7 linked regions of the Homo sapiens genome follow. The protein of the gene in region 2 purifies or fractionates together with the protein of the main gene of each other region. This does not show direct contact. Each region holds a gene or a part of one and is shown on either strand. Other genes may lie near its edges. The genes, in order: GSTZ1, ICOS, KLC1, FAM234A, PCDH1, MELTF and ERLIN2.

Region 1 (4,133 bases), on a different chromosome or scaffold from region 2:
AAGGCCTCCAAGACCAGCAGCCTCTTGTTGATGGAGCTGATGGTAGGGTAGGGGGTGAGATCCACCTTGAATCTGTAGTAGAGAAACACCTGCTAAGCTAAGGTTTTCAGGGACACAGGGAGACTGCCCTGATGCAGCAGGGGGAGCAGAGAGGCAGGGCTGGATGAGGTCGAGGGAGCTGTCCAGGGAAGGACGATGGGGCAGCCCTTATTCACAGGGGATGGGTAGGTCTTGTGCAGTATCATTTGGCATCTGTTACCTACTGTTCCTATTTCTTTGTGAACCTGCTATGTGTAAGGCCCAGTGCTAGGCATTTATATATACAGACTCTCTTCCCCCATGTTGTAAGCTTCTTGGGGGCAGGGAATGTGCCATACGTTTCCATATCCCTAACGCCTAGCATGATGCCTTCCAGAGAGGTGCTCATTTGTGCCCTACCAAAGGGTTCACGGAAGGATGCAGAGGTAGAGCTCACTACTGCTCACAGACACACCACATTTGAGGACATCAGGCAGGTGCTCTTGGGGGTCCACCAGGTGAGCCACCTCCTCTTAGGAGCTGGGGCTATCTATACAGGTTCATCTGGGCTGTGGTGGGCGTAGTAGGAGCACTGCCCCAATTTCTTCTGCCCTCTTCCAGGCAGAAGTGGCTATGTGGCCTGGCATGGTGGGCTCCTTGGCTGGTTGGCGAAGCGTCTGCATGAGATGCTATCTCGCCAGCTGAGTGGGGCCTGACTGTGGGCAGAGCCACGAGAAGGGAGGGTGGCGGGGCTCTCTCTTACCTTTCAGCATTTGCCACCTGAGGCACCAAGCACAGATCAGCCATGGTCACCTGAAAGAGGTCCCGGTGGGTTCCCATCAGGGTGCATACCCCAGAGTCAGTGGCTGGACTGGGTGTGTCCACTGCGACTCTACTGGGGGTACCAACAATCTGCTTCGGCTCTTTCACCCATCCCACCTCCAATTCTTGTCTGCCCTAGGCCTGCATGAGTCTGTCCCCCGGAGCTGAAGTGCCCTCCCAGGCCATGCTCCAGTTGCCCTGACAACCAACTCTGTGGGTTGAGAGGGCCAGAGAAGATGGATTGCCTTGACTGCGCAGACATCATCTAGCACAATCCCTCAACTGATGCTGGCCCGCCTCATCCTCTCACAGCCAGTCTTCTACCTTGAGTAACTCCCTCTTAAGACGGTTTAGTGGGAGTGAGCTGAGGAGTGCCCCATGGCACAGAGATCCCCCTGCAGACGCCTTCTCAGGAAGCTCTGAGCTTGAGGGAGGTCAGCATGAGGGAGGCAGCCACTGTGGCTGGGCCTGGGGAGGTCTGGGGACAGCTTACCTCGTCTCCTACACAGTATATGCCCGCTGTGCTCTGTAGGATCTGCTCCAGGGCTGTGGGGAGGCCACATAAACATCTTATTCTGGGCGCAGGGAGGGGACACAAAGCTTTCTGGGCCTTGGCCTCCATAGTTATGAAATGGGCGCCCAACTGAGTGACAGACTGGGCATGGCTGCTGGTGAGAATGTGGCAGCCAGGTCTCGAGAGAGCTGTTAGGGATGAGCTGCTGTTTCCTGAGGCTCCGCACAGACAATCACCATTTCCCCACTCGAGTGGACAAGCCCTGCCACTGGCCACGGTGACAGCTCTCACTCTGATGGCTGGCGCTGTGCTGGCCTTGGTTTCCCAGCTGGAGTAGGCAGTGAAGCTGAAGTTGGGCCATCCAGCTATGAAGGGCTGTGGGCTCAGGGACCGAGGTTCCCAGAAGTGCTGGAGCTAAGGTCTGGATGCCCACCCAGCCCATTGCCTCCCCAGTCCTGCCCTCATCCATGCAACTGTCAGGCCCAAAGCAGCCTGGGAGGCTGGTTCAGATACCCAGGCCCCTGTGTGCGAGGGCCATACCTCTAAGAGGCCACTGTGGGGCAGCTCACAGAGGTGAGGACTCACCGTTAAAGCCACAAGTGATGGCGTTCTGGGCCCAGGTCAGCTGCATCTCCTCTCCCACTTGCTTCAGGACAGACAGGTTCTGTGCAGCCCAAAGAAAATCTGTGATTGCGCTGACAGCTGGGTGGGGGCTACCCCTTCGCCAAACCCCCTCAGGGAAGTTCACTTCCCATCTGCCCCTGGCTGGATGTCTATCCCTTCTCCCCCAGGCTCCATGAGCCCCTTCCTTCAACCAAGGGCCCTGAGGTTGGAGGGAGGTAGCCATCCCAGCAGCCACCTTTGCAGGCTGCCCCAGTGGCCTCAAAAAGCCACGTGATTCTGTCAGAGATGTGCAAGAATCCCTATTCATGTGACACAGGACGCGGCCATGGCTGTGGCAGGTGTGCCCACAACTCGAGGCCTGTCTCCCTCACTTCTCCCTTGCATGGTCCCTTGTGAGGAGAGGGAGTGTGAAAGAGGGTGGGGCTGGGATGAGGGAGGTCCACAAGACCGGCTTCCAGAGATTTCCAGCCTGGCTCCATCTTGGCACCCCTGGAGCCATTTTCCCTCTGTTTCCTCATTATAAAATGGAGATGTCTGTCTGCTCCAACATCCTTTGTTAAAGCGACATGCGGGTAGAGGGCATAGGCATGCAGGGATTCTGACTTAGTCCCCACTTTGTTATGACCTACCTGTGGGACTCCTAAGTCACTCCACCTTTCTGGGGCTATTTCCTCATTCAGAGTAGAAGCTGGCACAGATGAACTGTTTTTAATACTTAGTTGTCTGTTTTAACAGTGACACTTAAAAAATAAAATCCTACAAGTATCCCAGTATATGACTGAGATAGCACAGATGAAACGGAAGCTGCTCTGGTTAAAGGCAGGAGGCCTGGACTGGGGCCTGCTCAGTCTCTCCCCTGCCATTCTGGCCCTTTCCCCACCCCAAGCACCTGTACATGCGTCCTTGGAAACTAGAGCTTCTCGGAACGCAGCGGGGGACCCGCTGGGGGGCTGAATTCTGAGATTGCGATCTTCACCCCCTTCTTTCACATGGTCCAGGTCAGAGGCCCTGAGAATCCCCCTCCCTCCCTTGACACCCCCGCCCCCACACTGGGCAGCTCACAGCCAATGTGTGAGTGTAAGAGTGTGTCAGGTGTGCAAGGGTGCAAGTGTACAAGTGCCACACCTGCAGGGGCTGGATGCCACCAGCGATGAGGTCAGAAATCATACGCACGCTGGCCCTCTTCTTTGGGTCCTGAGGCAGAAGTCGCGGAGTGGGACGCATCTCCTCTAGATACTCAATGATGGCCAGCTGTCCAGAGGGGAGCAGTGAGGCAGGGAGAGGGCCCAGGACCCCTGGACCAGAGGGGACAGGGCCAGCAAACTCCTCCTTCTCCTCTTCCAGCACCATCACTACACCTCTTCCCCCCTGCTTCTGCTCAGCTCAAGCCCTATAAGCCTTTTTGGACCTTATCATGCAGAACTTGGTTCTCCATGTGCTTGAATCTTCCCTTATTTTCCTAAATAACCTCGCACCCTCCCCACGAGTCTTGTATTGAGCCTCTCCTATGTGCTAGGCACCTTGACTGTACACAGGCGAGGAAGAGATGTCAGGCGCTCTCATTCAGGGCACTGCTCTCATGAGGGCCCTCCCCCAGGCCCTGCACTCACTGACTGGTGAATGGTGATTCCATCAATCTTCAGGGTTGGCACCTGCTTCATAGGATTCAGTGCCTGGAAGTCCTTAGAAAACTGTGGAGACAAGGCCCTGGTGGGCTGGGTGGCCTGGCCTGAGTTGGCCAGAGGAAAGCCAAGCAAGCAGGAGAACCCCAGGCCTGCCACCCACCCCCATCTCCCTTCCCTGGGAAGGCCCTAAATCCTAGGCCCAGGGTAATCCCTGGGGGATCCATGCAGTCTCCCAAAGCCCAGCTGCTGCTGAGCCATAGGCTTCATCCTAACAGCCTGGCTATGGGCTTTCCCTGCATCTCACACCGTGGCCACCAAGGCAGCTCCTACCCTAGTCAGCCATCCAGAGGGCCCAGTATGGGGTGGGGACCCACTAGCCACCCACCCTCCCAGGGTCAGGCACTGGAGAGCCCAGGCTAGGGTACACAGTCTGGACCTGGGCCCTTCCCAGGCCTCCTGCTACTGCACACCTTGCCACCTTGTCCCACAAGGGAGAGCCAGCAGCCTCCTGCAGTGATAGTCCACAAGAC
Region 2 (4,133 bases):
GGGACAAATTCTGGTTTTAGAAAGACTACTTTAAAAGCAGTGTGGATAATACACCAGATTGGGAAGGGCTGATGGCAGAGGGTGTCTAATAAACGTGCATGTATTATGATGTGTTCTGTGAGGAAGCTGGGAGGATAGCCCTCAAGGCCACTTTGAGCCTTCCTTTGTCACTGAGGCATTCCATTAGTGACTCCTGAATTCCACTTGGGAAAAGAGCCCCTCAGTGTCTCCAGCGTCTGAGAGAAGTCTGTGAAGATGACTGACCTTGGAGCCCCTCTTAGCCTCTCCACGACTGAGTAAATGTCATCTCCTGACAGCACCCCCTTCCAGAGTGTTCTTGTTAGATTTAACAAAAATCCCAGTTGTCAATTTTTTCTTTTGATAGATGAATTCAGGCCATTCCCAGTCAGCATAAGCCTCTACTTGATTTTATTTCTATGTTTATTTACTACTTATTTTTCTTTGTTGTATCCTCTTTTTCTCTTTTATTTTTGTTGGTGTGATGAAATTTCTTTTGACTCTCCTCTTTGCCTCCGGTTAATTTGGAAGGTCGACTACAGTTCTTAATTTACTAAGTAATTGACATGTTCAAAGAATCTTAATTGAATGTCTACTTGTTTATCATTGTATGAAAATAATGAAAATGCCTTTGTCTGATGTGCCTAGTCCCCATCCCCTGCACTGATATGAGAACTTAAGAATGTTCTTCCTTTCCCACTCTCACACTTCCCCCAGACAGTGCACCCTGCTCCATACGTGGGTTTTGTGGAAATAATTTAAAACTTACAGTTGCAGATCATTGCTAGGTTTCCTCTTACAGTATTTCTCTTCTGTTTCAAGAATCCTTTCTTAACACTTACATCACATACGTTCAATGACAACATCATTCTGGACATCTGCTCCTGTCTTGTGATCTCTGTTCTAATCTAATGATCAGAAGACTTCTCTTATTTTCGTTAAATACCCCCAACTCTCTGAATTCCAGTACAGGTAAGGGTGTCTTCCTTTTACCTTGATGAGTGACTGATATCTTTCCTGGGAATAGGAGTCCTGGATGGCAGCCTTTCTTCTTAGTGGTTGCAGATATTCCTCCACTGTCTGCTGGCTTCTAGGGTTGTGGGTGAAGAGTTTGATGGTAGTCTAACTCTCATTCCTTTGTAAAAAAAAAAAAAACTCTAGAATTTCATAATCTTGAAAGCTATTTACTTCAGTATTGGAATTCAGGAATTCCTCCAGGATATGTGTAACTCTCTCCCTCTGTTTCTCTTTCTGTGTGTTTCTATTAATTTTTTTTTTGAGGCGGAGTCTCACTCTGTCGCCCAGGCTGGAGTGCAGTGGCGCAATCTCGGCTTACTGCAACCTCCACCTCCCGGGTTGAAGCGATTCTCCTGCCTCAGCCTCCCAAGTAGGTGAGACTACAGGCACCCGCCACCACGCCTGGCTAATTTTTTTGTATTTTTCGTAGAGACGGGGTTTCACCGTGTTAGCCAGGATGGTCTCAATTTCCTGACCTCGTGATCCGCCCACCTCCGCCTCCGCCTCCGCCTCCCAAAGTGCTGGGATTACAGGCGTGAGCCACCGCGCCCCGCTGTTCTATTAATTTATTATTATTTTTTTTAAGACTGGGTGAAAGTTTTCAATCTCTAGACTCAAGCTTTATTCTTCATTTCAGTCATTTTTTTCCTAGTATTTGTTTAATCATACCTTATGCTGTTTTTCCCCACTCTTTCTAGAAATGTCTCTTATTCTTATGTAAGATCTTGAGTCCCTTATTTTTTCATCATTTGTGAACAAAATGGCTTTCACAACTTGCTGTTGCTTGTTAACCACAACTCCTTCAGATGAAATGGATATTTCAGTTTTAAGTTACTAGTAGCATATTCCCATTTCTTGGTAGAAACAAAATGCAGGCATGTAGGGGGGACTGAAATTCTTATATTTACTCACTGTAAGATTCATAGCATTATTTGGCTTAAAAAAATTCATCCCAGTATTCACAGTTGTAAACAGCAAAATCTACAACATATACTGCTTCCCTACTCTAAGAATATTGAGTTTTATATGCAAAATGACTTACTGGGCTTTGCAAATTTTTAAAAATGAGTTTTAAAATCATTTGTAGCTTGCAATAACTGAAGAAAAGATCACAATTTCTCTGTAAATGGCATCTCAGTACTACTGCTGTTCTAATAAACTAGGTCTGTCAAATGGCACTTTTTGGTCATTCAAAGTGAAAAAAACATGGCATTTGAAACCTTATAAAAATTCACAATTATATTTTGGAAAGTGGAACTTAAGTATGTAGGGGATATGTCACACAAATTGAAAGTGTTAGTCAAGAAATGATTTTTTTTTTCAATAGTTTGGCCTGTAAGGTTGACCAAAACAGGTAAAGATTTGCAAGTTTAGAGAGTCAGAAACTGGGGATATGAACTTCCTTCTGGTTCATGTATAACATAATGATGCTTGTATCTACTTTGCTTGAGGAAAAAAAAGAAACACGTTGTCCCCAAATAGGGTGATAGACCAGGAGTTTCCATCCAGTTGACCACGAGTGTTGTTAGGATCTGTTTATTTGAGTCATGTTGACACAGACACAGCACTTTCAATAAGCAATTAATGATCATTTAAAGGTAACTTTTTTGAATTTGATAAATAGATTTTTTTTACAGCCTGTATTTGTGTTCTTCTAGGACTTTGCAACAAAGAATCTGTACATGCAAAAACAACAATAACAACAACAAGCTGTCTACTGCACTCACAGTTAAAGTTCTGTTTACTTTGCACTATCTAGGACTAATGCAAAAATCTCATAGATGTGCCTATTTGCACTTATTTAATTATGATGAAATTTACTTCTATATGTGAATCCATTTCTGTACATTTCTACAGGCAGATAAGTGATGGGAAAATCATTAAGAATTTAGACTTCATCAGAGAAGAACCCAGGTACAATGACAGCCCAGCTTAATACATGATGGCTGATGAATGAAAATGTCTAGGGAAATGAGTGTGTTATGTACAATGTAATTTCATATCTAAGTCACTTTAAAATAATTTTTTGATATATAATAACCCTTTCAATCACAGAACACATATGTGGCACCAATGTGAATACTACTTTAAGTATTAAGGTGATAATATATCCAATATACCTAGAAGGAAAATAAATACCTGAAATTCATTTTCATATCTAGCTTAATGTTAAAAGCTTCTTTTTGTTTTTTTATTTCGTAGCAAATCTCTTTAGCTCTGATGCTTTAGTTTCTGTACAATGAGAGGATTGGACTAGATTATTAGGTGAAGAGATTAAGTAAGTGTGTGTACCCTGGTGTCAAATTATCTTATTCTTTTTTCTTTGTTTTTGTTGGACTGGGTTAATTCGAAGACCTTGTCTTCAAGCTCTGAATTTCTTTCTTCTAGTTGTTCAATTCTATTGCTGAGACTTTCCAGAGCATTTCACCTTTCTAAAATTGTGTCCAAAGTTTCCTGAAATTTTTATTGTTTTTTCTTTAAGCTATCTATTTCCTTGAATATTTCTGCCTTCACTTCTTGTATCATTTTTTGCATTTCCTTGCATTGGGCTTCACCTTTCTCTGGTCCCTCCCCGATTAGCTTAATAACTAACCTCCTGAATTCTTTTTCAGGTAGATGAAGAATTTCTTCTTGGTTTGGATCCATTGCTGGTGAACTAGTGTGATTTTTTGGGGGTGTTGAAGAGCCTTGTTTTGTCATATTACCAGAGTTGGTTTTCTGGTTCCTTCTCATTTGGGTAGGTGCTGTCAGAGGGGAGGTCTAGGGCTGAAGGCTGTTCTTCAGATTTTTTTTTTGTCCCATGGAGTGTTCCCTTGATATCATACTTTCCCCTTTTCCTATGTATGTGGCTTCCAGTGAGCCAAACTGCAGTGATTGTTGTCTCTCTTCTGGGTCTAGCCACCCAGCAAATCTACCCGGCTCTGGGCTGGTATTGGGGGTTGTCTGCACAGATTCCTGTGATGTGAACCATCTATGGGTCTCTCAGCCATGGATACCAGTGCTGTTCTGGTGGAGGTGGCGAAGGGTGCAATGGACTCCATGAGGGCCTTTAGCTTTGGTGGTTTAATGCTCTATTTTTGTGCTGGTTGGCCTCCTGC
Region 3 (4,133 bases), on a different chromosome or scaffold from region 2:
ATGGCAGGTACTGTGCTGAGTAGTCAGCGATACCTTGATAAAAGAGCCACTGTTGGCCGGGCGTGGTCATGCCTGTAATCTTAACTCTTTGGGAGGCTGAGGCTGCAGATCGCCCCTAGCTCTTTGGGAGGCCGAGGCAGGTGGATCACCTGAGGTCAGGAGTTTAAGACCAGCCTGGCCAACATGGTGAAACCCCGTCCCTACCAAAAATACAAAAATTAGCCAGGTGTGGTGGTGCACACCTGTAATTCCAGCTACTCATGAGGCTGAGGAAGGAGAATCGCTTGAACCGGGAAGTGGAGGTTGTAGTGAGCCGAGATCACGTCACTGCAGTCCAGCCAGACTCCGTCTCAAAACAAACAAAAAGAGCCGCTGTCAGCCGTGCAGTGGCTCACTCCTGTAATCCCAGCACTTTGGGAGGCCAAGATGGACCGATCACCTGAGGTCAGGAGTTTGAGACCCGCCTGGACAACATGGTGAAACCCTGTCTCTACTAAAAATACAAAAAAAACCAAAACCGGGTGTGGTGGCGGGTGCCTCTAATCGCAGCTACTCAGAAGGCTGAGGCTGGAGAATCGCTTGAACTGGGGAGGCAGAGGTTGCAGTGAGCCGAGATCACGCCATTGCACTCCAGCCTGGGCAACAAGAGCAAAACTCTGCCTCAAAAAAAATAAAACCAAAAAACAAAAAAACTCTGTCCTCTAGGAGCTCACAGGCTGGCATGGGCAGGTACCACAGACCAGGTTAAAGGCTGTGGAGTGCACTGAGGAGGCGATTCTTCACAAAAGAAAAGTACCAATCAGCCAGTGTCAGGGGGTCAGGGGTGGGATTGGGATTGGGGTTCCTGCTTGGAGGAAATAAATCCTGAGGTTGTGCTGCTGTAAAGGGGCATGTTGGGAAGGGGACATGGGAGTGAGTGTGGAAAGACGAGGTTAGGAAAGGCCTTGAATGACTTCTTAGAAGTCTGCTTTCATTCTGAGGTTTACAAAGGAGGGTTGGAAGATTTTTTTTTTTTTTGAGATGGAGTCTTGCTCTGTCACCCAGGCTGGAACGCAGTGGCACGACCTCTGCTCACTGCAGCCTCTACCTCCCAGGTTCAAGTGATTCTCCTGCCTCAGCCTCCCGAGTAGCTGGGACTACAGGTGCGTGCCACCACATCCGGCTAATTTTTTGTATTTTTAGTAGAGTCGGGGTTTCACCACGTTAGCCAGGATGGTCTCCATCTCCTGACCTCGTGATCCGCCCGCCTTGGCCTCTCAAAGTGCTGGGATTACAGGCGTGAGCCACCGCGCCTGGCCGGAGGGTTGGAAGATTCTGAGGAGCCAGTTGCCACTTTAGAAAGAGCATAGGCAGTGGTGGGGCAGGTGCTGTGAACTGGGATGAGGTTAATTAGGAAGCCATTAACCCCAACTCGGCAAGCCTCAGGATTAGGGCAGTGACAGAAGGAACAGAGAAGCTAGGTGGGGGCAGGGGCTGGGCTGTAAGGGTTATAGTGGAGCTGATTTGGGGCTGACTGGATTGGGGTAAATGAGGAGCTGCAGGGAGGACTCCCCAGAATGATCCTGTGAAAACCTGAGTCACTCCTCTGTTAAAGCTTTTGTCAGTGTCCTCTGAGCACCCCACCCTGTCTCTTTTCATCTTCCTGCTCTGGCCCTACTCAAGCACTTCCAGGTGCATCTGGAGTTCTGAACCAAACCCATTCTTGTAGTGATTAGCATTTCTTCACTTCCCCACATACTCCTTAGCCTCTGCCCTGATTTTTCTCCTTAGCACACCTCACTATCTTAAATGCTGTATTATTATTATTTTTTTTTTATTATTACTTTTTGAGACGGAGTCTCGCTCTGTCACCCAGGATGGAGTGCAGTGGCATGATCTCAGCTCACTGCATCCTCTGCCTCCCGGGTTCAAGCCATTCTCCTGCCTCAGCCTCCCAAGTAGTTGGGACTACAGGCATGTGCCACCACACCTAGCTAATTTTTGTATTTTTAGTAGAGACAGGATTTCACCATGTTGGCCAGGCTGGTCTCGAACTCTTGACCTTAAGTGATCCACCTGCCTCAGCCTCCCAAAGTGCTGGGATTACAGGCCTGAGCCACCGTGCCTGGCCAATACTGTATTATTTTAATCATTTTAAAATTTTTATTGTTTGTCTCCACTTAACATTCATAACCTCCACAAGGATGGGGAGTTTTGTCTCTTGTATTCAGTGTCGGTGCTTGGCGTGTAATAGGAACTTAGTAAATGTTTGTTGAAGGAATGCATCTAGAATGATCCTCATCTCTAATTTGGGTGATTCACTGGCTGGTGACACTCATCCAAGGAGGGAAAATGGGAGAAGGATGAGATTATGAGTTTGTTTTTGGACATGTTAAATCTGAAGTGCTTGTGGGGCAGCCAAGTGGACTAGTGGGCAGTTAGAGATACATCTTTGGAGCTCAAGACAGAGGCTGAGGCTGGAGGTAAAGATTCCAGAGACTGCATCATATCGTTGAGCCAGTCGGGTGTGATGTCCATCTGGTAGAGATGGGGAGTGGGTCTAAGAGGAGAGGGTCCTGGGAAACCAAGAGAAGAGGAGGGAGGAGATCAGTAGCAAATTGGCTAAGAAGTCAGTGATGGGTTGGACTGAGAAGTCTCTATGGATTTTGCTTCTAGGAGGTTACTAATGACCTTTAACTTTTTTTTTTTTAAATATAGTTTATGTAGAGACGGGGGTCTCACTGTGTTTCCCAGGCTGGTCTCGAATTCCTGGGCTCAAGCCATCTGCCTGCCGTGGCCTCCCAAAGTGTCGGGATTACAGGTTTGAGCCACTGCACCCGGCCTGTTGCCTGTTTCCTGAGAATATTACCTCTTAAGGATGGAGGCTATTTCGAGATGATCTTCATTCGTTCTCCCAAGGCATCCTTTGTGGCGTTGTACTCTGTAGCCTCCTAGTTAGTATACTCATGGATCAGAAATGAATTATGATTTTTTTTTAGTTTTAACTAATTTTTGGAGGCAGATGAAAGCAGTTTGCATATATGCTTTTTGAATTTGAAAAGTGCTATCTGAACTTAAAGCAACGGATATGGAGCAAACATGTTAAGCTGAGTTACGTGCATACGTGAACTGAGTTACTTCCTTGGTTCTAAAATATCTGTTACCTTCATTTAAACCATAGATTGTTCCCTGACTTCAGTTGCATAACATAAATTTATGTTCAGGCTTCTCTGAAGTTCACTATGCTGCTACTAAAACTGATCAGAGTGATGTTTGCACTGTTCCAGAGAAAATAGGTACTGTAAACCCTGCGGATGTCATATGTGTCTGTAGTTTCAGTTACTCCGAAGGCTGAGGTGGGAGAATCAGTTGAGCCCAGGAGTTCAAACTAGCTTGGGCAATATAGTGAGACCTTGTTTCTTAAAAAAATAAAAGGCTGTGCTTGGTGGCTAATGTCTGTAATCCCAGCACTTTGGGAGGCTGAGGAGGGCGGATCACCTGAGGTCAGGAGTTTGAGACCAGCCTGGCCAACATGGGTGAAACCTTGTCTCTACTAAAAATATAAAATTAGCCGCGTGTGGTAGTATGCTTCTGTAGTCCCGGGTATTTGGGAAGCTGAGGTAGGAGAATCACTTGAACCCGGGAGGCGGAGGTTGCAGTGAGCCAGATCGAGCCACGGCACTCCAGCCTGGGCGACAGAGTGAGACTCCCATCTCAAAAAGAAAAAAAAAAAGTAAAATAGGTACTGTTACTGAGATTCTACTGTTGAGGAATTTGAGGGTGAGAGAGGGGAAGTTTCAGAAACCAAAGTTACACAGCTGTGAAGTCAAGATTCTAACTCAGTTTTTTTGCTTCGCGGTATAAGCTTTGAATCACCTTGCAGTACTTAAAGCTGCAGCTTCAAGTGAATCATGATAATGCTGTTTAATCCTATCATTACTTTTTCTTGGGGAAACCTCGCGCCACTTCAATTTTTTTCAAAGATGTACCATTTTAACCATTTAAAAGTTCACAATTCAGTAGTGTTAAGGATATGCACATCGTTGTTCCACATTTCTGGAACTCTTTCATCTGGCAGCGCTGAGACTGTAGCCCCCAAATACTGATATCTCCTCCTCCCTCGCCCTCCCCCGGTAACCATCTTTTCTACTTTG
Region 4 (4,133 bases), on a different chromosome or scaffold from region 2:
AGTTGCTGGGATTACAAATGTATGCTACTGTGCCTAGCCTTAAAACACTTATCTTGACCGCAGAGGAGGTCTACACAAAAAGAAAGAAAAAAAAAAAGCTGTCTGCTTCAGGCTGGGCACGGTGGTTCACACCTGTCATTCTAGCACTTCGGGAGGCAGAGGTGGGAGGATCACATGAACCCAGGAGTTACAGAGGAGCCTGGGCAACATAGTGAGGCTCTCATTTCTACAAAAAATTTAAAGATTAGCTGAACAAAAATTAGCTGGTGCATGCCTGTGCTCCCAGCTACTGGGGAGCCTGAGGCGGGAGGATCTCTTGAGCCCGGGGATTCAAGGCTGCAGTGAGCCATGATTGCACCACTTCATTCCAGCCTGGGCAACAGAGCAAGACCCTGTGTCAAAAAAAAAAAAGTTTTCATCAAATTTCTGCAATTAAAAAAATTAGAGGCCGGGCGCGGTGGCTCAGGCCTGTAATCCCAGCACTTTGGGAGGCCGAGGCGGGCGGATCACGAGGTCAGCAGATCGAGACCATCCTGGCTAACACAGTGAAACCCCATCTCTACTAAAAATACAAAAAATTAGCCGGGCTTGGTGGCGGGCACCTGTAGTCCCAGCTACTGGGGAGGCTGAGGCTTGAAACCAGGAGGCGGAGGTTGCAGTGAGCCAAGATTGCACCACTGCACTCCAGCCTGGGCGACAGAGCGAGACAACGTCTCAAAAAAAAAAAAAAAAAAGGCAATTAGAATGAGACTTTTGTTTTTATTTTCTGTTCTCTGTGACTCAGTAAACTTCTTAGAGAAAGAACTCTTGGAGAAAAGGGAGAGACCTGTCACTTCCTTTCTGCATGGACTGTGGTATTCCTGCCCCACCCCTGCCGAAATGTTAATGAGCTGTGCAAACTACTGCTGGATTGTTTTGTTCTTCCCCCTAATCAGAGTTTCCACTCAGGACTGGGTAGCCTGTGGACTCCCTGGAGGACAGATAGGTGTGGCAGCCTCAGTGGCCTAGAGTGGACAGCTGGTTTACCGATAGTCCTTTTTTTTGAGACAGAGTCTTGGTCTATCACCCGGGCTGGAGTGCAGTAGTACGATCTTGGCTCACCACATCCCCTACCTCCCAGGCTGAAGTGATTCTCGTGCTTCAGCCTTCCCAGTAGCTGAGACTATAGGCAGACACCAACATACCCACCTAATTTTGTATTTTTAGTAGAGTCGGGGTTTCACCATGTTGGCCAGCCTGGTCTTGAACTCCTGTCCTCCAGTGATCTGTCCACCTCGGCCTCCCAAAATGCTGGGTTTATAGGCACGAGTCACCGCGGGCTTACTGATAGTTCTGTAGGCCAGGGGAATAATCCGTTTGAATAACCATATATGAGGTATTGTGTTTATCTTTCTTTCTTCAAGTTATTCTTGGTGTCAGCTCCTTTTTTTTTTTTTTTTCTGAGACAGAGTCTCGCTCTGTCGTCCAGGCTGGAGTGCAATGGCGCTATCTCAGCTCACTGCAACCTCTGCCCCCCGGGTTCAAGCGATTCTCCTGCCTCAGCCTCCTGAGTAGCTGGGATTACTGATGCACATCACCACGCCTGGTTAATTTTTTGTATTTTTAGTAGAGATGGAGTTTCACCATGTTGGCCAAATTGGTCTCGAACTCCTGACCTTGCGATCCACCCACCTCAGCCTCCCAAAGTGCTGGGATTACAGGCGTGAGCTACCACGCCCATCCCGTGTCAGGTCTTTTACCTTAATTAATACGTATTGTATTGACAAATTTTCTTTTCTTTCTGAGCCCTCACTTTTTTTTTTTTTTTTGAAACAAGGTCTCACTCTGTTGCCCAAACTGGAATGTAGTGATAATGATCACAGCTCACTGCAGCCTCAACCTCTTGGGCTCAAGCTAACCTCCCACCTCAGCCTCCCAGGTAGCTGGGACTACAAGCACATGCCACTACACCTAATTTTATTTTACTTTTTGTAGAGATGGGGTCTCCCCATGTTGCCCAGACTGGTCTCGAACACCTGGCCTCAAGTCATCCTCCTGCCTCAGCCTCCCAAAGCACTAGGATTATAGGCGTGAACCACCCTGCCCGGCCATGAAGTTAAATTTTTGGTTATTAGCTTGTTGAGTTCTGTTTTCTGTTTTTTTAAATAGCCACATGGCCTGACTCTCTGTGGTCAATGGTATGGATGCTAAAGTAGAGCAAGGACAGTGCCCTGCTCAAGTCTCTCTGACCTGGGTCCATGGGGATTTTCTCTGCCAGTCAGGTTCCTGAAGCTCTGGCTACGGCTCCTGGTATTTTTAATGACCGCAGTAGAGAAAAACATTGGTATCTTCTTGCTGTTGATGAGCAAATCTTTGGACCTGTCTCATGGTGTCTTTATTTGCAAACTGGTTGAATCATGAACTGCCTGGCTTTGGCTGCCTTGCCGTTGTGGCTTTTAATAACTACCCCTATTTCTGGTGGCTCAGTCAAGTTTCCAAAAAGGAAGTCTTACCTGGAGATCCTGTGAAGGAATTCCTGACCAGCTTTTTAATTTTCCAAAGACAGGCCTTATTCGTGTTAAACACACACCCCTTTTCTGTGGCCAGGCCGGTGTGAAAGCATGTGCAGAGGCTGTATAGCAGTAAGAGTTCCCACCCCTTGGGGCATTTTCATTGTCACCACATTGTCTGACTTTGGAGACGACCCCTTTTAAACTCTGGCATTTGCTCAGGTAAGTATTTGGGGAGTATTGTTATAAATGCTGTGCATATCCGTTTTTTCCCCACAGTGGAAAGGAAAATGATTTTTTTTTTTTTTGAGTCGGAGTCTTGCTCTGTCACCCAGGCTGGAGTGCAGTGGTGCCATCTCGGCTCACTGCAACCTCCGCCTCCCAGGTTCACACCATTCTCCTGCCTCAGCCTCCTGAGTAGCTGGGACTACAGGCACCCGCCACCACGCCCGGCTAATTTTTTCTATCTTTAGTAGAGATGGGGTTTCACCGTGTTAGCTAGGATGGTCTCGATCTCCTGACCTTGTGATCCACCCGCCTTGGCCTCCCAAAGTGCTGGGATTACAGGCGTGAGCCACCGCGCCCGGTCGGAAAATGATTTTAATGGATGGTTTTGAGGAAGCTGGTGATTATTTTGTAATGGAGAATTGTAACATGCCAGGGGTTTGGCTCTTCTTTCAGTATTTCTTCAGGCTACCACAAAACTCCACTATTGATATTCTTCCAAAAATAAACAAAACACTAAAAGGACTCCTGCCTTTGGAACAAAATAGCTTCATATTAAGGTAGCTTTGAGGCACAAACCAAGCTGCCTGTGGAGAAGCTGGTTCTTCCTCTAAAACTTACATGAACCTCTGACCCCACTCCCCCTTACTAACGGTTTTCTTTTCTCTTTTGATTTTCTATTTTATACTTTTTATTTTGGACTACTTATAGATTCACAAAATGTTGTAAAAATAGCACAGGGCTGGACCCTGAAGTCTGCTTCCCTGAATGGTAACCTCTTTTTTTTTTTTTTTTTTTTTTTGAGACGGAATTTTGCTTTTGTTGCCCAGGCTGGAGTGGAATGGCACGATCTTGGCCACTGCACCCTCTGCCTCCCAGGTTCAAGTGATTCTCCTGCCTCAGCCTCCCGAGTAGCTGGGATTACAGGCATGCACCACCACGCCCGGCTAATTTTTTTTTGTATTTTTAGTAGAGATGGGGTTTCTCCATGTTGGTCAGGCTGGTCTCAAACTCCCGACCTCAGGTGATCTGCCCGCCTCAGCCTCCCAACGTGCTGGGATTACAGGCATGAGCCATCGCGCTCGACCAATAACTACCATTTCAAATTCCCACGACTATTGTACTGCAGACCTGTTATCGTATATTCTCACCAACACATTTTAAAATGCTTAACTTTTAGGCTGGGCGTGGCCCACACTTTGGGAGGCTGAGGCAGGCAGATCACTTGGGCCCTGGAGTTTGAGACCAGCCTGGGCAACGTGGCGAAACTCTGTCTCTACAAAAAATACAAAAATTTGCCCGGCGCGGTGATGCACACCTGTGGTCCCAGCTACTTTATAGGCTGAGGTGGGAGAATCTCTCGAACCCAGCAGGAGGAGGTTGCAGTGAGCCTAGATCACCACTGCCCTCCAGCCTGGG
Region 5 (4,133 bases), on a different chromosome or scaffold from region 2:
CACCTGGCTAGCAGAGAAGGATCTACTTGACTAGGGCGGGAGTTTTACTTCTCAGAGGTTCCCCCAGCTTGAGTCTGCCTTAGGGGTCACGGGAAACTGTTCATATGCTATTTCACTGTCACCTAAGTAGCCTGATAGAGGAAAGTAATATCACCTGCTGGGGTGGGGTGGGAAAGACTCCCCTGGCTGAGTTTGGGGAGAAGGGGTCTCACTACAGTATTCTGGCAGTTTTTCCCCTAAGTGAAGGGAACTCTCACCTGGTTGGGTGGGCTCCCATTTCTAGTGGTGGGTCACCCTGACAGTTATACGGAGGGGGCCTCTCACCTGGATGACCGAGTGGCCTATGGGGCTATTCTCAGATAGTTCGGCCTCATAGGAGGGCCGCTCAAACTTGGGGGCGTTGTCATTGGTGTCAAGCACGGTGACACGCAGCAGGGCACTGCTGGCGCGTGGGGGGCTGCCGCCATCCTGCACCTTGATGGTGAGGTCATAGGAGTCCCAGCGCTCACGGTCCAGGTTGCCCATCACAATGAGCTGTGGTTGCTTCTCCTCCTGGTCCTCTGCCACCTGCAGCCCAAATAGCTCCTGGGCCTCAGGCCCAGCCTGCAGCTCATAGGATGCCACACCGTTGGGACCAGCATCACGGTCTGAAGCCAGCGGGATGGGGAAGAGTGAGCCGATGTTGGTGTTCTCAGGGATGGCCAGAGTGATGACTGGTGAGGCGAAGTTGGGTGTGTTGTCATTGATGTCTTGTACTTCTATCTGGCCCTCTAGCAGCCGGGGGCTGCCATTCTGCACGAGGTCTGTGATAGATACCTCAAACTCCAGGATGCAGGGATCACCAGGGAGCTGGTTCTGGCATTCACGGAGCCCCTCACGGTCGATGGAGGTCTCGGTGGTGAAAATGTCACCTGTCTTGCCATCCACGCGAAGGTACGGGGCACCCACCTCTAGCTTGTACAGGTGCCCCACATCTGGAAAACCATAGTCGGCTGCGAGGCTCCCAATGAGGGTGTTGGGTGGCTGTTCCTCCGGCACCTTGTACACTACCCGAGTGGCGTGGCCTGGGGATGGAGCCAGCAGGAGCAGCAGTGCTAGCAGCATGGAGGGCAGCAGTAGCCGTTGCCCCCCAGGGCCTGGGCTGTGCCTCAGGTGCTCCATCCTGGGAGGCCCCAGAATCAGGAGGGCTGCAAGGGGAAGAGGCAAAACAGAGGCCATGAGCTGGGAAGAAAAGCCTGGCCCTGAGCTGCCCAGAGCTGGCCCCATACTCACCCTCTCCCACTGACACACGATTCTCCACAAGAGCAGTCAGTCCCAGCACAGAACCCCGATTCCAGAAACTCAGATCCCTGAATCTCATCCACAGCTGGGTGTAGCAGCAGTGTCTGCCCCAGCTGGAGGAGCCAGTAAGAGGCCTGGCATGCCTAGAGCAGCTCCCGCCCATGGAACACCCTCACCCACCTGACGCTCCCTGGGCCCAAGCCCGGCTGCCCGCCCTCTTTCCTTCTTTTCCTCCTTGCTCTCTGCTCTGTGCTTCACCCAACACCTCCTTCTCACGAGCATCCTGCCTTAGTCACCGATGGTAATTACCTTGATACTGAGATAGGGAGAGAGAGCCAGTGGAAGGGTGAGACCTCGAGCATCCCCAACTGGAGCACCCCTCCCCACATGCATGGTAGGAAAGAGACACAAGTACGTCCTTACACACCCCAGACCCTGGGACCTTGACTTGTCACACTGGGCTCCATTAAGGTTGGCTGGAGGGAGAGGGGATGATGTCTCATTTCTCTTTGTTCTGAGATGCCAAGTCAGTGCATATGCATGAGGTATGACATCTCAAATCCTCTTTTTCTGACAATCACCCACGGTGCCCAGTATTCTCCACCCCCATAAAAGGCCAGCTTGAATTGGGCAAGGCTTGTGAAAATGGTTAGGGTTGAGGAGTAGGTGTTAGCCTTCCCGACTTTCCCCCAACACATATGCCCCAGAACGTGCACACAGGCCACAGAGCGTGCACACATGCCCCAGAGCATGCACACATGCCCCAGAGCATGCACACAGGAACATGCACAGTTGCTAGGGCTCCTCTCCTCTCCCTCCTGCTGCCATGGGCAGGTGCGTACAAGGGAACACAGGTCAAGATTGGGGTCAGAACTGTGGTCAGGGCTGACTAGCCCTGGAATTGGCATTGGGAGCTGCCCTGGCCTGTCCTTAGCAACAGGGAGCCCAGCAGGTCTAACTGGGACAGAGCTGCCGATGATAATGACACCAGCAGCCTTTCCCTGGCCACTCCCCCACCCCACACCCTCTGGTCTCTGGATGAACATCTGGCTCTTATTTGACATCCATCTCCGTATATCCAGCCCCTACTTCACACTTGCCTCTCCCAACCTCTGCCCTAGTCAACCACAAGCTGTACCCCATCACAACAATAACCCCCTTCTTCTGCCCATCTCCCCTGGCTTTGAGGTCGTGCATTTGCAGATCCCAGCTAGACCCAGCTACTGTCTCTGTCTTGAATGCCCCCTCCTCTCCAACAAAATCATGGCCAGTCCCTCCTTTATTCAAATCCAAAATCTTTGGATCAGCAGTTTCTTTGGAGGCTTCTGGTTCAGTCTCCTTTCCCCACTTCCTCACTTTTACCTGGAATACCTTCCCCACACCTGGAACACCCACCCCACATCAATCCCACTGAGGGCAGGCTCTGGCCCTCCAGGAAACCTTCACAGTCCTCTCCTGCCCACGGTGACCTCTCCTTCCTCCAACTCACAGCCACTTATTGTCTGCTCCAATCCCAAGGCAATGAATCATGGGGCTGACTGGGACACCGCCCGCCTGTGTTGTTCAGCTTCAGTATTGTGCACCTATTCCTGAGTTCTCTGCCTTTCCAGGCAAACACAAAGCACTACGAAGGAAGGGACAGTACTCTGTACACTCACTCATCCCCTGCCCCCTAACAATGCACCTTTGCACATCTGGGTACACTGTAGGGACTCAGTCATGCATTCAACAAATGTTTATTGGGCATTTACAATATGCCAGGCTCTGTCCTGGGCACTGGGATGCAGAAGTAAACAAGACTGGTCCAATCTGCCATGACAGTGCTTCTAACTCAATGACTATTTGTCCATTTTGTTTGGTTGCTTCTGTATACCATTTGGCGAATGTAAGGCAGCAGGGTGGAGAAGAGCGAGGGTTGTGGCATTAGACAGTCTGAGGCAAACCCAGCTGCTCACTTCCTGGCTGCATGACCTGAAGCAAAGATTTAGTGCCTCAGTTTCCTTACCTGTAAAATGGGGATAATACTACCTATTTCCTAGGGTGTTTGAGATACTGTGGGCTAAATGTGGGTACTCAACAAAGGACTCCTTCAAAGCATTTAGCACAATTGTAGTTGTGTACCTGTTTGGAAAATGTGTTAATTGTCTGTCTTTGCTCCAAGATGGTGAGCAGAAAGCAGGAGAGTTTCTACTTTGTTTGCTCCTACCTCCTCAGGGCTTAGCCCTGGACCTGGCACACAGTGGGCACTTGGCAGCTCTTGAATGACTGTTGTTATTTTGCTCTCTAGGCTTAGCCTTTCCTGGTACTTGCTGTGTGACCACTGCTCTTTTACTTGCTCACTTACCCGATTCCCCTACACCACTAAGAACTTCCTGGGGTAAAATGTAAGTCTTCTCTGTTTAGGGCACATAGTAGACTCTCAGCAAATGTTCACTGAATGCACAGAGTCTTTAGATAAATCAAACACATCCCCTCCTCTGTATGGCCTTCCCCAAGCACAGGCCCCTCCCTAAAGTGTGTGCGGCGTTATCAGATTGGTGTGAATGTTAATCTCTTTAAAGGAAGCAGGAATTTATCTGTACTCCATTTGGATCCACCCCCCACCCCCCCCCTCCACCTGCATGGACCTGGCACAAGGCTCATCTGACTACTTCAACCCCAACCCAAACACATCGTCAAAGGACCATCACCAGAGAACCTCATTTTCTTATGGGACTGTATCCTGCTGCCACCCTCCTCTGCATATACAATGTGGTATCACTGTGCACCCTAATTCTCTACAAAAGTCTTGGCAGGTGAGGCGTTATGTGGGAAGCCCACGGGAATTACCCTAAACCTGACCAAGAGAATAA
Region 6 (4,133 bases), on a different chromosome or scaffold from region 2:
TTCCCAGAGAGCCTCGCCATGCCCGAGGTTGAGCTGGGCTGGAGCTGGCAGCAGTGGGGACAGGTGGACTTACGGTTGGGGTCACAGAGCAGACCCTTCATGGCGTGCAGGTACTCATGGCCCAGCCACGCCTCATAGGTCTGTGTGGCGATGGGCACAAGCTCCGAGGTAGAGTCTTTGAAGAGTAGATCCTTCTGGCCATAGGCCTCAGAGCTGAACATCTGGAAGCTGCTGCCCTCGTGGCTGAACAGACGCTGTGTGTCAAGGGGTGTGGTACAGGGTGGTGAGGGTGCTGACAGGCCATATCCTTCCCTCCCACTTTGGCCCCTACCTCCTTCTTCCCCGACCTCAGACCAGGCACCCACCCTGAGGGCCAGGTGAGGCCTCCCTCTTCTGCGGCGCCTCCCCTGATCTGCGGCCTCCTTCCCCTGGGCCCTGTCAGTTCTGGGTCTACTCTGAGTTCATTTGGCCTCCTCACACTCAGCTGTTTGGACACATGGCTGTGGCCAGGCATGGGACGGTCCTGAGGACACGCCGTGGGGCTGGTGGTAGCAGCCTGGATAGGGCAAAACTAACTGAGCCTGGGGCACCAGCAGTCAGAAGTCTATTGCTGTCACAAGCGGCGGTTTTAGCCAAACCTTATTCGCCACATGTAATTAATGGTGTGCTTTGAAAGGCGCTGGTTTTGTTACTTGGTTTATTTGCTCATATGTTTTGGTTTTAGCTCTCAGAGACACAAGTCTCAGGAGCTTCTTCTGAGGGTGCCTGAATCCCTGGGTCCCCCTCCTCTGGGCCCCCCTCTCCTGGCCAGCCCTCCTTCTGGCCAGCCAGCATAGTCGGTTCCTCACTCTGACCTGGCCCGATGCTGGGGTCCGTCCCAAGGACAGTCTCTGGGTCCTGCCCCTCCTGGTCCCACCCTGCTGAGCGACCACAAGGCCCGGCACCATCTAGGAAGCTGTGCAGGTGGTTGGGGGACCCTGAGCCCACCTGGCCTTCGTTGAGCAGCCGGAAGATGAGGCCCCCATCTGTGTCGGCCCGGACCACCACGGCGTGAGCAGGCACCCGGGCCAGATGGCACTGCCTCCACTCGGTGACATCGGCCCGGCTACCATCCCGGCACAGCAGCTCGAAGTCCTGTGACAGCAGGGCCTGGCCCCAGGAGGGAAGCGTCTTCCCTGGGAAGCAGGAAGCCTGGGCTGAGCCAGCTCCGAAAGGGGTTGGGGCGGGTGGCGGGGAAGGCCCAGGAGAGGGAATCTGAGGGGTGGCTGGGTGTCATGGACATGAGAACCCAGCATTCAGAAGGTGGCAGAGCTTGGTGGCCGCACCCAACTCCAGGTACCTACACAGACTCTATCTCGTTACTCTCATTTTCTAGCTCTCACCAATTTCTATTGCTAAAGTGAATTGGAGGTATCTGACAGTAATACAATACTTATAAATAACTATTCAAGATAAAAAAAGTAAGAAAATAAGAAAGGCTGGCCGGGCGTGGTGGCTCACGCCTGTAATCCCAGCACTTTGGGAGGCCGAGGTGGGCGGATCACGAGGTCAGGAGATCAAGACCATCCTGGCTAACACGGTGAAACCCCATCTCTACTAAAAATACAAAAAATTAGCTGGGCGTGGTGGCGGGCGCCTGTAATCCCAGCTACTGGGGAGGCTGAGGCAGGAGAATGGTGTGAACCTGGGAGGCGGAGCTTGCAGTGAGCCGAGATCACGCCACTGCACTCCAGCCTGGGCGACAGAGCGAAACTCTGTCTCAAAAAAAAAGAAAGGCTTTGGGTGAGACAGATGAATGTACCAAGAGTCTAGGATGAGCTTGCGGCTGCCATGAGGCACTGCGTTTGGCTCTGAGCAGGGGGCAGGGGGCAGGGCTCCCGGAGCAGGGGCCACGGTGGAAACAAACCCCGAAGGAATCTACCCACCCCAGGACTAGAGAGGACGGGGGATCTCCCATAACTCCAACTATTCATATTGCGATGGATTTCTTTCAAGTCCTTTTTTCTATTTTATTTCCTGTCTTTTGACCTCACCCCCCCTTTTTCTTTTTGAGACGGAGTCTGGCCCTTTCGCCCAGGCTGGAGTGCAGTGGCACGATCTCGGCTCACTGCAACCTCCACCTTCCGGGTTCACGCCATTCTCCTGCCTCAGCCTCCCGAGTAGCTGGGACCACAGGTGCCCGCCACCACGCCCGGCTAATTTTTTGTATTTTTTTTTATTAGAGATGGGGTTTTACTGTGTTAGCCAGGATGGTCTTGATCTCCTGACCTCGTGATCCACCCACCTCGGCCTCCCAAAGTGCTGGGATTACAGGCGTGAGCCTCCACACCTGGCCTTTTTTCTCTTTTTGAGATGGAGTCTTACTCTGTCGCTCAGGCTGGAGTGCAGTGGCATGATCTTGGCTCACTGCAACCTCCGCCTCCCAGGTTCAAGTTATTCTTCTGCCTCAGCCTCCCGAGTAGCTCAGATTACAGGTGTGCACCAAGATGCCTGGCTAATTTTTGTATTTTTCCTAGAGATGGGGTTTCACCATGTTGGCCAGGCCGGTCTTGAACCCCTGACCTCATGATCTGCCAGCCTCGGCCTCCCAAAGTGCTGGGATTACAGGCGTGAGGCACCGTGCCCAGCCTCCTTTTGACCGCTTTTAACCTGGTTAAGGACATAGTTGACAGGCAATTTTGCATCCTATTTGGTAGAGTATTTTTCCACAGTATTGGAAACTTTCCATAAGTTCATTTGTTTCTCGATAGAAAAGAAAATTTGCAAGAGTAACTATTAACACCAAACAGGGATATTGAGAAGACGAATATTAAGGACTATAATTAAACCACAGATGGTCCCACATAACAATATTTTTATGACCTTAAGACAAGGAGGAAAAAAACCTCTACAAGGAAATAGGAAGAAAAAAGATAATTTGTATGGTCATGAAAGCTTTCACTGCAAAGCTATTTTAAAACAAAACCAAACACCCGCACCAGAGTGATCGTTTAGGAAAACTCCCTAAAGGTCATTGTTAATGGCCACATGGTAGTTTACAGCACTGTTAATGATTCAGTGTAGTCCTACCCCCGCTTCCCAACTTTCCTGTTTTTCGGCGGCTGCAAAACCTTTGGTTAGAGCTCTGGGGCATCATTTGCCTTCCCACAGACAAAGGCATCATTTAGGTGCTTCCATCAGCCACTCCCGCTTCTCCTCAGCCAAGAACAATGAAAGTCCTGTCACTTCCCTGCTTTAGACATTTATGCCACTTCTACCCCTTGGCTCTTACCAATCTTTCTGTATAAAGTCACTTAAAAAATGACTCCCTTAGATTGCCTCAGATTACCATCAACACTTTGAAAAAGCTGCCAGGTGCACGCCTGTCATCCCAGCTACTCAGGAGGCTGAGATGCGAGGATCAGTTGAGGCTGGGGGTTTGAGACCAGCCTGGGCAACATGGTGAGACCCCCATCTCAAAAAAAACCCCAAGTTTGAAAGAGCTGATTCTTAACCCAACATATCCCTACTCTTTGCCCGTTTTCCAAATTCTCCTTTGTCAGACTCGTCCTGGGGCCTGTGAACGGGAGCCCATTTCCAGGCTTGCCCAGCACTAGAGCGCATCGTCCTACGTGCTTCCTCGTGTGCAGGGCACTCGCCTTCTTCCTCCTCAGATCTGGTCCATGTTTGCCTTCGTGATGGACTTTCTGATTTAAAAGGCAATGGTTAATAACAGCAAAGAATGACAATGATTTAAAAAAAAAACCCAATCATCAGACGTCCTGGGAGACGCAAAACTGCAGACAGAACGGTGTGTTTGCTGCTTGCTGGCAGGTGCGGGGAGATAACTAGCAGGGGCCTGAGGAACTCCTGGGCTGAAGGGTCTGCCCCATCAAGATCTCGATTGTGGTGGTGGTTATACAACTGCATGTATTTGGCAAAACTCATAGAACTATCCTTCAAAAAGAACAAATTTTGCTGCATGTAAATTATATCTCAATTTAAAAAAAGAAACAATCTTCAGGCAAATCTAAATTGAGGGACATTCTATAAAATAACCGGCCTGATGCTTCAAAATGCCAATGTCATAAAAACAAAGACTGAGAAACTGTTCCAAGATAAAGGAAAGTAAAGAGATCTAACAACTAAACCCC
Region 7 (3,277 bases), on a different chromosome or scaffold from region 2:
GGGCAGAACTGAGGATGCCTTTGCTGTGTGGTGCAGGTACTTTCCTTCTCCTTGGACATGCCTTGATAGAAGTTTAGTTTAATTTTGTGTTAAACATGGAAACTTTTAACTTTTGCACCTATGCTCCAAGATCTGAGATGACTGTCTCTTACAGAAATGTAACAATGAGACCACAAAAAGTAGGTAGGGGCATAAATATAGGAAAATTGAAGGGGCACCACTCCCCTCCTTCTCTAATATGGTTCAACATAAGTCTTCCATACTTTTTTTTTTTTTAACAGCTGAAGCTAACCCCTGAATATCTGCAGCTGATGAAGTACAAGGCCATTGCTTCCAACAGCAAGATTTACTTTGGCAAAGACATTCCTAACATGTTCATGGACTCTGCGGGCAGTGTGAGCAAGCAGTTTGAGGGGCTAGCTGACAAGCTAAGCTTTGGCTTAGAAGATGAACCCTTGGAGACGGCCACTAAGGAGAATTGAAAAAAACTTGATATGACTGCAAATGATACTTAAGCAGATCTTTATTTTTTAAGATGAATCAGAATGTTCCTCCCTCCCCGACTACCTTCTCTGACTGTCTTCCAGTTACTGTGGTGAAAAAGAAGAAATGAACTTAAATCCACTCCCTTTCTAGGGAAAGGAGGGTGGGGACTGATGATGGGGGGTTTTATTTCAGGTAAGCAGTTTATATGACTTCCAATAAGATTTGTAAATCATGGGCTTGACCTTTGACCTCTAGACACTAATTTTATCCTTTGAGGCTGGCTTAATTAGGGATGCTGTCATTAAGGAGAGGGAGAAATGTAGAGTGTTACCTCCAACTCATTTGATTTCCCTTACTTGGGAAAATGCAGTCCAGTGTTCTCACCTCTGCCTCCAAGGTAGGAGATGTCTGTGGGTGAGGCTCAGCAACTGAGCAAATATGTGCCTGTGAGTTTGCCAGTAGAGCTGTGAAGAAACAGCTGCAGAGAACATTTGACCTTCCTGGCATTCTTGTCTGCATGTGTGTGAGTTATTTTAGAGGTGTGCTTTCTTGAGCCCTCATAAGGAAGTACTGGTGCTAGGTTTTGCAAGATTTTGTATACACTTTGCTCCTTGCCCTAGGGCTCAGAGTGGTGGTTTCTGACTACATTTCTAGAGTCAGAGCTTGATCACCACAACTCAATTATTTCGGCATCTTTTCACCTATGCTGTGATTTGTTTTTTTTTTTTCTTCTCAAAAATTCTGTTCATTGGTTCCACTCAGCATCAAGAAGACAGGGACAAACAACTCAAGTGTCTTAACAGCTGCTGGAGTGGGATCCTTGTTATCTCTTAGCCACTGCAGGACCTGCCTGACAGGTTATGTGTGCACCTCGAGATGAAGTGTCTTTCTATTATTGTAGAGATTCTGTAGTGAAGAGGTCTGACACCATGTGTGGAGGAGGAGGAACGATCAGTCAAGAGATGTCCTGGTCTTAATGCCTGTGGCTTGTGCTGGGAGTGGGTCTGACTTAGTGATAAAAGGACTCTATTCACTAAGTAGCCTGTGTTTTTAAATCCAGGGCTGCAGGCAGCAACGCAAGTCAGGCTGAACATTCAGTCTCCAGAGACAGCTGTGTGGAGCAAATCAGAGTTCATGCCCAAGTCCCCAGGTTGGAATGGCTGTGCCAAAATCCATTCAAAGGGTTTTCTTTTTCATTACTAGGTCAGAACATTTTGAGTCACCTTGGGAGATTCAGGATGGGGAGAGCAAATTTGAACAAAAGGTTTTTCTTATATCCTGAGATTGAGGGGTAGGGGGTGTCCAACCTGTATAGCCCATGGGTTGTGTCTAGAATTAAGTGGAGGGCAGCTATCTGGAGTTAACTTGCAAGCATATTGGTGCCCTCCATGACCACCTCTGGCTTAGGACTTGGCCCTGTTATGAGCTGACCCCCACCCCCCACCCCCCACCCCCCCCCCCCGCCAACTCCTATACCCATCTTCCCTAGGTGAATCTGTGAATGGTCCTTTCTGGCAGCAATCCCTGCCTTCTTTTTGGGCCCATGCCCAGACTTCTGGTTTAAGGAATGGTCCCAGAGCTTGGGCCAGCTTGCTCAGAAGTTTTGGGAGCATTGAGCCTGCCTAGAAAGATACAGTGTTAGCTCCCCTTACTTCAAAGTTGCCCTTCTCTGTTCTGACTCCTGGGACTTCTGGTCCTGGGCACACTTTTTGCAGGCAACAAAATGTGCCTGGGAGTGATGGATTTTAATGTGCTCCAGAGTCCTTTCAGAAGGTGGTCATTTCCCTTGGCCGGGCGCGGTGGCTCACACCTGTAATCCCAGCACTTTGGGAGGCCAAGGCAGGCGGATCACCTGAGGTTAGGAGTTCGAGACCACCCTGGCCAACATGCGAAACCCCATCTCTACGAAAAATAGAAATATTAGCCGGGCATGGTGTCAGGCACCTGTAATCCCAGCTACTTGGGAGGCTGAGGCAGGAGAATTGCTTGAACTCGGGAGGCAGAGGTTGCAGTGAGCCAAGATCATGCCATCCCACTCTAGCTTGGGCAATAGAGCAAGGCTCCGTCTCAAGAAAAGAAGGTCATTTCCCAAGACTAGCATAGGGAGTATCCATTTAAAATACATTCATCTTCCTCCCATTTCCGTGCTATTAATCACTTGTTAGAGCAACATGACATGCCCAGCATCCCACTTCCCGAAAATGTCTACTCCTTCTACTCTGAGCTCTTGTTGCCTAGACCTCAGAAAACACCAATTCACCACAGTAGAACCGGGAGCAGGGATAGCTCAGCTTCTCTGAATAGCACACTTTGCTCAGGTCTTAACTTGAGGGCCTCTCCGGTACTAACATCCTGCGATAGCTTGTCCCATGAGCACAGAAGAGCCTCAGTAGAGTCAAGTCCTGCTGCAGCTGCCCCACCCCAAGTTTCTATCATTTCCTCTTTAAACAAAAAATATGTTATCCTACACATTAGTGTCAATCCAATGGTTGTCTCTTATCTGTCTAAATAGCAAAATCATGAAAATCAGCTGTTTTATTTGCATAGGACAACTAACCTGTCTGTGTAACTTTGTTTTTATTTTAACTCTTACTAGAAAATCTAATCTTAAAACATTTGAATTCTAAACATGTAAAATGTGACAGCCTGCAATTTTGTAGACAGTGAAGTAATGGCTGCTATTTATAAATGGAACATCTATCAAAATAAGTAACTGTTTATAAAATTCAGTTTTTGTAGGGTTTTCCAAGGAAAAATCACCTTGGTTGAATGTTTCTCACTCATTAAACTT

Evidence for each region.
Region 1: the proteins of ICOS (region 2) and GSTZ1 purify together in Homo sapiens (co-immunoprecipitation; one study listed by IntAct). This does not show direct contact.
Region 3: the proteins of ICOS (region 2) and KLC1 purify together in Homo sapiens (co-immunoprecipitation; one study listed by IntAct). This does not show direct contact.
Region 4: the proteins of ICOS (region 2) and FAM234A purify together in Homo sapiens (affinity purification with mass spectrometry; one large-scale study listed by BioGRID and IntAct). This does not show direct contact.
Region 5: the proteins of ICOS (region 2) and PCDH1 purify together in Homo sapiens (affinity purification with mass spectrometry; one large-scale study listed by BioGRID and IntAct). This does not show direct contact.
Region 6: the proteins of ICOS (region 2) and MELTF purify together in Homo sapiens (affinity purification with mass spectrometry; one large-scale study listed by BioGRID and IntAct). This does not show direct contact.
Region 7: the proteins of ICOS (region 2) and ERLIN2 purify together in Homo sapiens (co-immunoprecipitation; one study listed by IntAct). This does not show direct contact.

The regions. Positions count from the first base shown.
Region 1 is NC_000014.9:77,327,008-77,331,140, reverse strand, and holds part of GSTZ1 (maleylacetoacetate isomerase), read right to left. Parts: intron 3,670-4,133; coding exon 3,589-3,669; intron 3,230-3,588; coding exon 3,104-3,229; intron 2,019-3,103; coding exon 1,940-2,018; intron 1,387-1,939; coding exon 1,334-1,386; intron 832-1,333; coding exon 782-831; intron 73-781; coding exon 1-72.
Region 2 is NC_000002.12:203,939,506-203,943,638, forward strand, and holds part of ICOS (inducible T-cell costimulator precursor), read left to right. Parts: exon of another isoform or gene 1-929; coding exon of another isoform or gene 930-990; intron 991-1,011; exon of another isoform or gene 1,012-1,253; intron 1,254-4,133. UniProt on the Homo sapiens protein: Stimulatory receptor expressed in activated or antigen-experienced T-cells that plays an important role in the immune response.
Region 3 is NC_000014.9:103,632,059-103,636,191, forward strand, and holds part of KLC1 (kinesin light chain 1), read left to right. Parts: intron 1-4,133. UniProt on the Homo sapiens protein: Kinesin is a microtubule-associated force-producing protein that may play a role in organelle transport. The light chain may function in coupling of cargo to the heavy chain or in the modulation of its ATPase activity.
Region 4 is NC_000016.10:241,190-245,322, forward strand, and holds part of FAM234A (protein FAM234A), read left to right. Parts: intron 1-1,428; exon of another isoform or gene 1,429-2,711; intron 2,712-4,133.
Region 5 is NC_000005.10:141,868,245-141,872,377, forward strand, and holds part of PCDH1 (protocadherin-1 isoform 2 precursor), read right to left. Parts: intron 1,384-4,133; exon of another isoform or gene 1,361-1,383; coding exon of another isoform or gene 1,273-1,360; intron 1,188-1,272; coding exon 325-1,187; intron 235-324; exon of another isoform or gene 1-234. UniProt on the Homo sapiens protein: May be involved in cell-cell interaction processes and in cell adhesion.
Region 6 is NC_000003.12:197,016,116-197,020,248, forward strand, and holds part of MELTF (melanotransferrin isoform 1 preproprotein), read right to left. Parts: intron 3,687-4,133; coding exon of another isoform or gene 3,490-3,686; exon of another isoform or gene 2,838-3,489; intron 1,176-2,837; coding exon 988-1,175; intron 255-987; coding exon 74-254; intron 1-73. UniProt on the Homo sapiens protein: Involved in iron cellular uptake. Seems to be internalized and then recycled back to the cell membrane. Binds a single atom of iron per subunit. Could also bind zinc.
Region 7 is NC_000008.11:37,753,634-37,756,910, forward strand, and holds part of ERLIN2 (erlin-2), read left to right. Parts: intron 1-281; coding exon 282-482; 3' UTR 483-3,277. UniProt on the Homo sapiens protein: Component of the ERLIN1/ERLIN2 complex which mediates the endoplasmic reticulum-associated degradation (ERAD) of inositol 1,4,5-trisphosphate receptors (IP3Rs) such as ITPR1.